2 separate regions of the Homo sapiens genome follow, and region 1 is linked to region 2. The links come from fine-mapping of genetic effects on gene expression. A gene starts in region 2. The other region holds a variant in brackets. All regions are shown on one strand. Distances are between the middles of the regions. Region 1 overlaps PRODH2 (proline dehydrogenase 2). Region 2 holds the start of LIN37 (lin-37 DREAM MuvB core complex component).

Region 1 (2,907 bases), 53 kb before region 2:
GTTTGAGACCAGCCTGGGCAACACAGCAAGACCCCATTTCTACAACAAATTAAAAAAAAAAAAACAGCTGGGTGTGGTGGCGCACACCTGTAGTCCCAGCTATTCCGGAGGTGGAAGGATCACTTGAGCCCAAGAGGTTGAGACTGCAGTGAGCAGTGCTTGAGCCACTGCACTCCAGCCTGGGTAACAAAGCAAGTCCCTACCTCTTAAAACAAACAAACAAACAAACACATTAACCCCTGCTATACCTGTAAGTCCTTATAGGTCCCAGATGGACAAGACGTTGCCCCTTATTTGCTGGGGCATGAGGAGGTCTGAGGGCTCCAGGGAACTGGCTGGGAGTCACTGGGGGACCTTCAAGGAATGCAAAGGACTGGTTATTATGTATCATTGAGTTTGGAAATACTTCAATGTTTGAATTACTGGAGCCGCCATATGGGTGCATAGTGGCTGACTTTAAGCTGTAGATGCAGCCACAGTCTGGACTGATGATGTGGCCTTTTCTGTAGCATGTGGGAGCTGGGCATTCCTCTGGATGGGACTGTCTGTTTCGGACAACTTCTGGGCATGTGTGACCACGTCTCTCTAGCACTGGGTATGTGAATGGCTCCCCCACCCCCATCAAGCCCCAGGCCTTACTCCCTCCCAGCCAGAGCCCTTCTCCTATTCCCAACCAAGGCCCAGCCTCCAGATCCTTCCAGAGAGATCTGTCATTCCAGTGTCTGTGGGCCTTCCAAGGCTGTGTCTCTGTGTCTGCCGTCTGTCATTTCTGCTGGTTCTTGATCATGGTGTATTATTTCTTGTGTGTTTTGTTATCTTTACTGTGCTGCTCCTCAGGGCCTGACACCAGGTAATTAATGTTTCCTTCTGCCAGGTGCTAAGCAGAACGAAATCACTTTATCCTAAATTCATAGCTTGAGGTTTCTTGAAACACCCCACTGGCACAAATTTGAGCTGCAAATACATAAGGGGGTTAACCCATAGCCCCAACTTCGCAGAGGTGGATTTTTCTGTTTTCTTCCTTGATCTGTTTATGGCCAAGACCATTTCCTGGGACTGGGGGAAGGTTGCAGGGTTGACTTTTTATTAACTCTTACTCTAAGGGTGTAGATTTTTGGGTTCCAGCTTAACTTGGGGAAGTTCTCCCTTATAACTCTCACCTCAGGCTTGAAGACTGACTCAATGTCCCCCCGCAACTCTGTGAATTCATCAGATAGCACCTCGGTTTTGCTTTTGGGGCAGAAGTGGCTTGCTGTGTGTCTCTTCTCTCTCTGGGTTCTCATTTTCTCTTTTATTTTATTTTATTTATTTATTTATTTTGAGACAGAGTCTTGCTCTGTTACCCAGGCAGGAGTCCAGTGGTGCCATCTTGGCTCACTGCAACCTTTGCCTCCCAGGTTCAAGCGATTCTCCTGCCTCAGCCTCCCAAGTAGCTGGGATTACAGACGGCTGCCACCACGCCCAGCTAATTTTTGTATTTTTAGTAGAGATGGGGTCTTACCATGTTTGCCAGGCTGGTCTCAAACTCCTGACCTCAGGTGATCTGCCTGCCTTGGCCTCCCAGAGTTGCTGGGATTACAGGCGTGAGCCACCACGCCCAGCTTATTTATTTTGTTTTTGAGACAGAGTCTGGCTCTGTCGCCCAGACTTGAGTGCAGTGGCACGATCTCAGCTCACTTCAACCTCC[G/A]CCTCCTGGGTTCAAGTGATTCTCCTGCCTCCGCCTCCCCAGTAGCCGGGATTATAGGCACGCACCACCATGCCCAGCCAATTTTTGTATTTTTAGTAGAGACGGGGTTTCACCATGTTGGCCAGGTTGGTCAGTGTGCTGAGATTGTGCCACTGCCCTCCAGCCAGGGCGACAGACCAAGACTCTGTCTCAAAATTAATTAATTAATTAATTAATCAATTGAGATAAAATAAAAACAGTTAGCTGGGCGTGGAGGTGCATGCCTGTGGTCCCAGCTATTCAGGAGGCTGAGGTGGGAGGATTGTTTGAGCCTGGGAGGTCAAAGCAGCAGTGAGTCGTGATCACACCACTGCACTCCAGCCTGGGCCACAGGGCTAGACCCTGTCTAAGAGAGAAAAAAAAAAGTTTGCTCCAGGACTTTTAGCTTTTTCAGTTAGAAATTTTATCCAACTCACTTAATCTGCCATGTTCTCAGAAACAGAAGTCTCTGTTCCAGGTGGGGACTGGGGAGTGTCCCCCCAGCCCAAGCCCATACCCTGTCAACACTCCAGGCTGGGCATGGTGGCTCACGCCTGTAATCCCAGCACTTTGGGAGGCCAAAGCAGGAGGATAACTTGAGGTCAGGAGTTCGAGACCAGCCTGGCCAACATGGTGAAACCCCATCTCTACTAAAAATACAAAAATGAGCCGGGCGTCGTGGCAAGCGCCTATAATCCCAGCCATTCTGGAGGCTGAGGCATGAGAATCGCTTGAACCTGGAGGCAGAGCTTGCAGTGAGCTGAGATTGCACCACTGCACTCCAGCCTGGGCAACAGAGCGAGACTCTGTCTCAGAAAAACACCAAAAACGAAAAAACAAAACCCACTCTCCCTGCAGGGCAGGCCGGCTATGTAGTGTATAAGTCCATTCCCTATGGCTCCTTGGAGGAGGTAATCCCCTACCTGATCCGGAGGGCCCAGGAGAACCGGAGCGTGCTTCAGGGTGCCCGCAGGGAACAGGAGCTGCTCAGCCAAGAACTGTGGCGGCGGCTGCTGCCAGGATGCCGAAGGATACCCCACTAGCACCCCTGAGGGGGTCATGTGGTCAATAAAAGTCCTTAGGTGCTGCCTAAGCTGCTGTCCTGCACTGACGCCGCCTCCTTGGGGAAGGGCTCATCTTGACCTCAGCCAGCCCAAGCTAGGGGTTTTGCAGTTCAAGAGAGATCGTTAGGCTGGGAGTGG
Region 2 (2,907 bases):
CCCTCTCCCTCCCCTACCCAGCCCACCAACCCCATGGCCTGTCCACTAGGCCTCCCGAGTGTCTCTCCCACCCACCTCCTCCCTACTCTACCCATCCTGGTCCTGTCCTTTGCTCCCCCTTGGCTCCCTGCCTCAGTGTCCCCCTTCTGATACACCCTCCACAAGGCAGCCAGGGGAATCTTCCTGAAAAATAACAAACCTGACCCTGATCTTCCCTTGCTTGGAAACTTCCATGACTCCACAGCACCCAGGGGTGGAGTCTGCACTCCTCAGCCTGGCACTCACAGGTGTACACCTTCCCTCACCATCATTTGTGGTCACACCCACTTCTCTTTTCTTTCTTTCTTTTCTTTTCCTTTCTTTTTTTTTTTTTTTGAGACAGGGTCTCAATCTATCACCCAGGCTGGAGTGCAGTGGTGTGATCTCAGCTCACTGCAACCTCCGCCTCCCCGGCTCCAGCGATCCTCCTGCCTCAGCCTCCTGAGTAGCTGGGACTACAGGCTTGTGCCACCACACCTGGCTAATTTTTTTTTTTTTTTTGTATTTTTTATAGAGACAGCGTTTCGCTATGTTGCCCAGGCTGGTCTCAAACTCCTGACCTCAAGTGATCTGCCAGCCTCGGCCTCCCAAAGTGTTGGGATTACAGGTGTGAGCCACCGCACCCAGCCTCCCACTTTGTTTTAATAACACTTTTGCCATGGGACATCCTACATCATTTTACTATTATCTTTCTGTCTAAATTCTGCACCCCTCCCACTGCCCTTACCATGCCAGGCCTGGGATCCGGTCAGCTCCGCCCCAACCCAAAATTCTCTCCTCTTTCTAAGCTTCACCCATTGACCACAGTTCCTATTTTCTAGGATTACTGGAATATAGTGACTGTGAGGATTAAGAGTGCCTGTACTTCAGGCTCACAGCAAGATGTGTGACTCTGATCACTGCTGGAAATGGGGAAACTGAGGGGAAGCCAAGAAAAGAGAACTTCTCGGCTGGGCGCGGGGACTCACGCCTGTAATCTCAGCACTTTGGGAGGCTAAGGCGGGAGGATCGCTTGAGACCAGGAGTTCGAGACCAGCCTGGGCAATATAGCGATACTCCGTCTCTATTTAAATATTTTAAAAATTTAAATTAAAAAAAAGAGGAAAGAAAAGGGCCCTTCTCAGAGTTACCGGCTCAGGATTCCCCATGTCCTACCACGCACGTCATTGCCCGAGCCACCCCATTCAATCTCAAAGCGACTTCAAGCGCACACCGGGAGGGTGTGAAGGTGGCAGGCAACGCTCGCTGCCTGATACAGCGATTGTCAGGTGGGCTTCAGGGAAAAGTCGTGCAGTCCCCTTTCCGCGATACTCCCTTCCACCGGGACTCCACACCCTGTCAACCCGATGGTCCCGACAGGCCCCCGACGTCAGGGTCCTCACCTGATTTCTCCACTTTCACCTTCACAGGGAACATGGTTTGGGTCCGGGATCTGGCTAGCTGGGTCAGAGGCGCCCCAAAGGGCCTAGGGTCACAAGTCAAGGCGGGAGAAGGCGGGGACAGTTCAAAGATGAGCTTCGTGGGCCACGGGTCCTCCGCCTTTGGTTGTGTCCAGCCTGGACCGTGGCCACCACCCTTCTGTGGGCGGGCCCCTTCGGCAGTAGCTTGTTCCTATTAGTTATTGCAGCCGTCAATCTCGCATCCTGACCAATTGAGAGCTGCCTCCGTAGTCTCCCAGCTTTAGGTCCCACCCACCTGGGGCTTTGCTTCCGGAAACAAACCATCTACCCCCTAGCTTCCTGGGAGGTGTAGTTCCAGCTTCCCAGACTCACCCTGAGTAACAGCGCCTGCGCCGCGCGGGGCACGGTGGGAAACAAAGGATTAGGGCATCGCGAGGCTTCCCGGGACTTGTAGTGTGAGAAGGGTTGAGCAACACCAAGTTAGCTCTTTACCGGATTTAACCAACCGTTGGGGTCCCTTCATCCCTAAGAGGAAGACTAATGTAAAATAACGTTGGGTTCCCTCTCACTGAGCACTCGCTAGGTGCCAGGTATCTGTTAATCTCTTTGCAGGTACAACTTCATTCATTTTGCAAATATTTATTAGTGTGTCGGGCACTCTTCTAGGCATTGGAGACACCTTGAGGAACAGAATAGACAAAAATCCCTGCGCTAATGGAGCTTATCTTTTAAAGGAGGGAAGATAAACAGTAAACAAGTAAATTTTAAGTGAAATGTAATAGGAGAAAGAATATGATCTGGGCGGGGCATGGTGGCTCACGCCTGTAAATCCCAGCTCTTTGGGAGGCCTAGGCAGGCAGATCACCTGTGACCAGGAGTTCGAGACCAGCCTGGCCAACATGGTGAAACCCAGTCTTTACTAAAAATACAAAAATTAGCCGGGCATGGTGGCATGCGCCTGTAATCCCAGCTATTCGAGAGTTTGAGGCAGGAGAATCGCTTGAACCCGGGAGGCGGAGGTTGCAGTGAGCCGAGATCGGACCTCTGCACTCCAGCCTGGGTGACAGAGCAAGACTCCATCTAGAAAAACAAACAGACAACAACAACAAACCCCTCTCCCCCCCCAAAAAAAAAACCCACAAAAAAAGTGTAGCCTGAAAGGGACATAGGAATATCAAGGTGGTGATTGAATTTTAAATAAGATGGATGGTCAAGGAAGGATTCTCTGAGAAAGCTCTTGACTATTTTTATTTTTGCAGACAACACTTCCTTCAGAAAACGGGAAACTTCCATTTGTCACACGTCTTGGTCCAGATAAATCCCAGGAAGTAGCATCGTGATCTACACTTCTGATGAGAATACTGCAGCCCACAGTAGGAAAGTTATATTTTTGAATTCACGACTACCAGTACAGGATAACAGCCCCTAGAAATGGAAGCACTAGGCCGATCCTACCACTGCACTCCAG

What was found.
Region 1: its variant is fine-mapped to the expression of LIN37 in breast (GTEx, PIP 0.90).

Annotation. Positions count from the first base shown.
Region 1 is chr19:35,799,879-35,802,785 of GRCh38, reverse strand. It overlaps PRODH2 (proline dehydrogenase 2), which reads left to right. Exons shown (of 10, transcript NM_021232.2): 9 at 510-595; 10 at 2,564-2,798. The coding sequence ends at 2,748. Among named protein-coding and RNA genes, the nearest start is that of PRODH2, 12 kb to the left of the region's middle. The variant G/A (reference allele first, on the strand shown) is at 1,688.
Region 2 is chr19:35,747,273-35,750,179 of GRCh38, reverse strand. LIN37 (lin-37 DREAM MuvB core complex component) reads right to left here and starts at 1,604. Exons shown (of 9, transcript NM_019104.3): 1 at 1,422-1,604. The coding sequence starts at 1,455. It overlaps PSENEN (presenilin enhancer, gamma-secretase subunit), which reads right to left. Exons shown (of 4, transcript NM_172341.4): 4 at 2,661-2,907. RefSeq lists enhancers at 1,355-1,474, 1,321-1,835, 1,875-1,934, 1,836-2,350.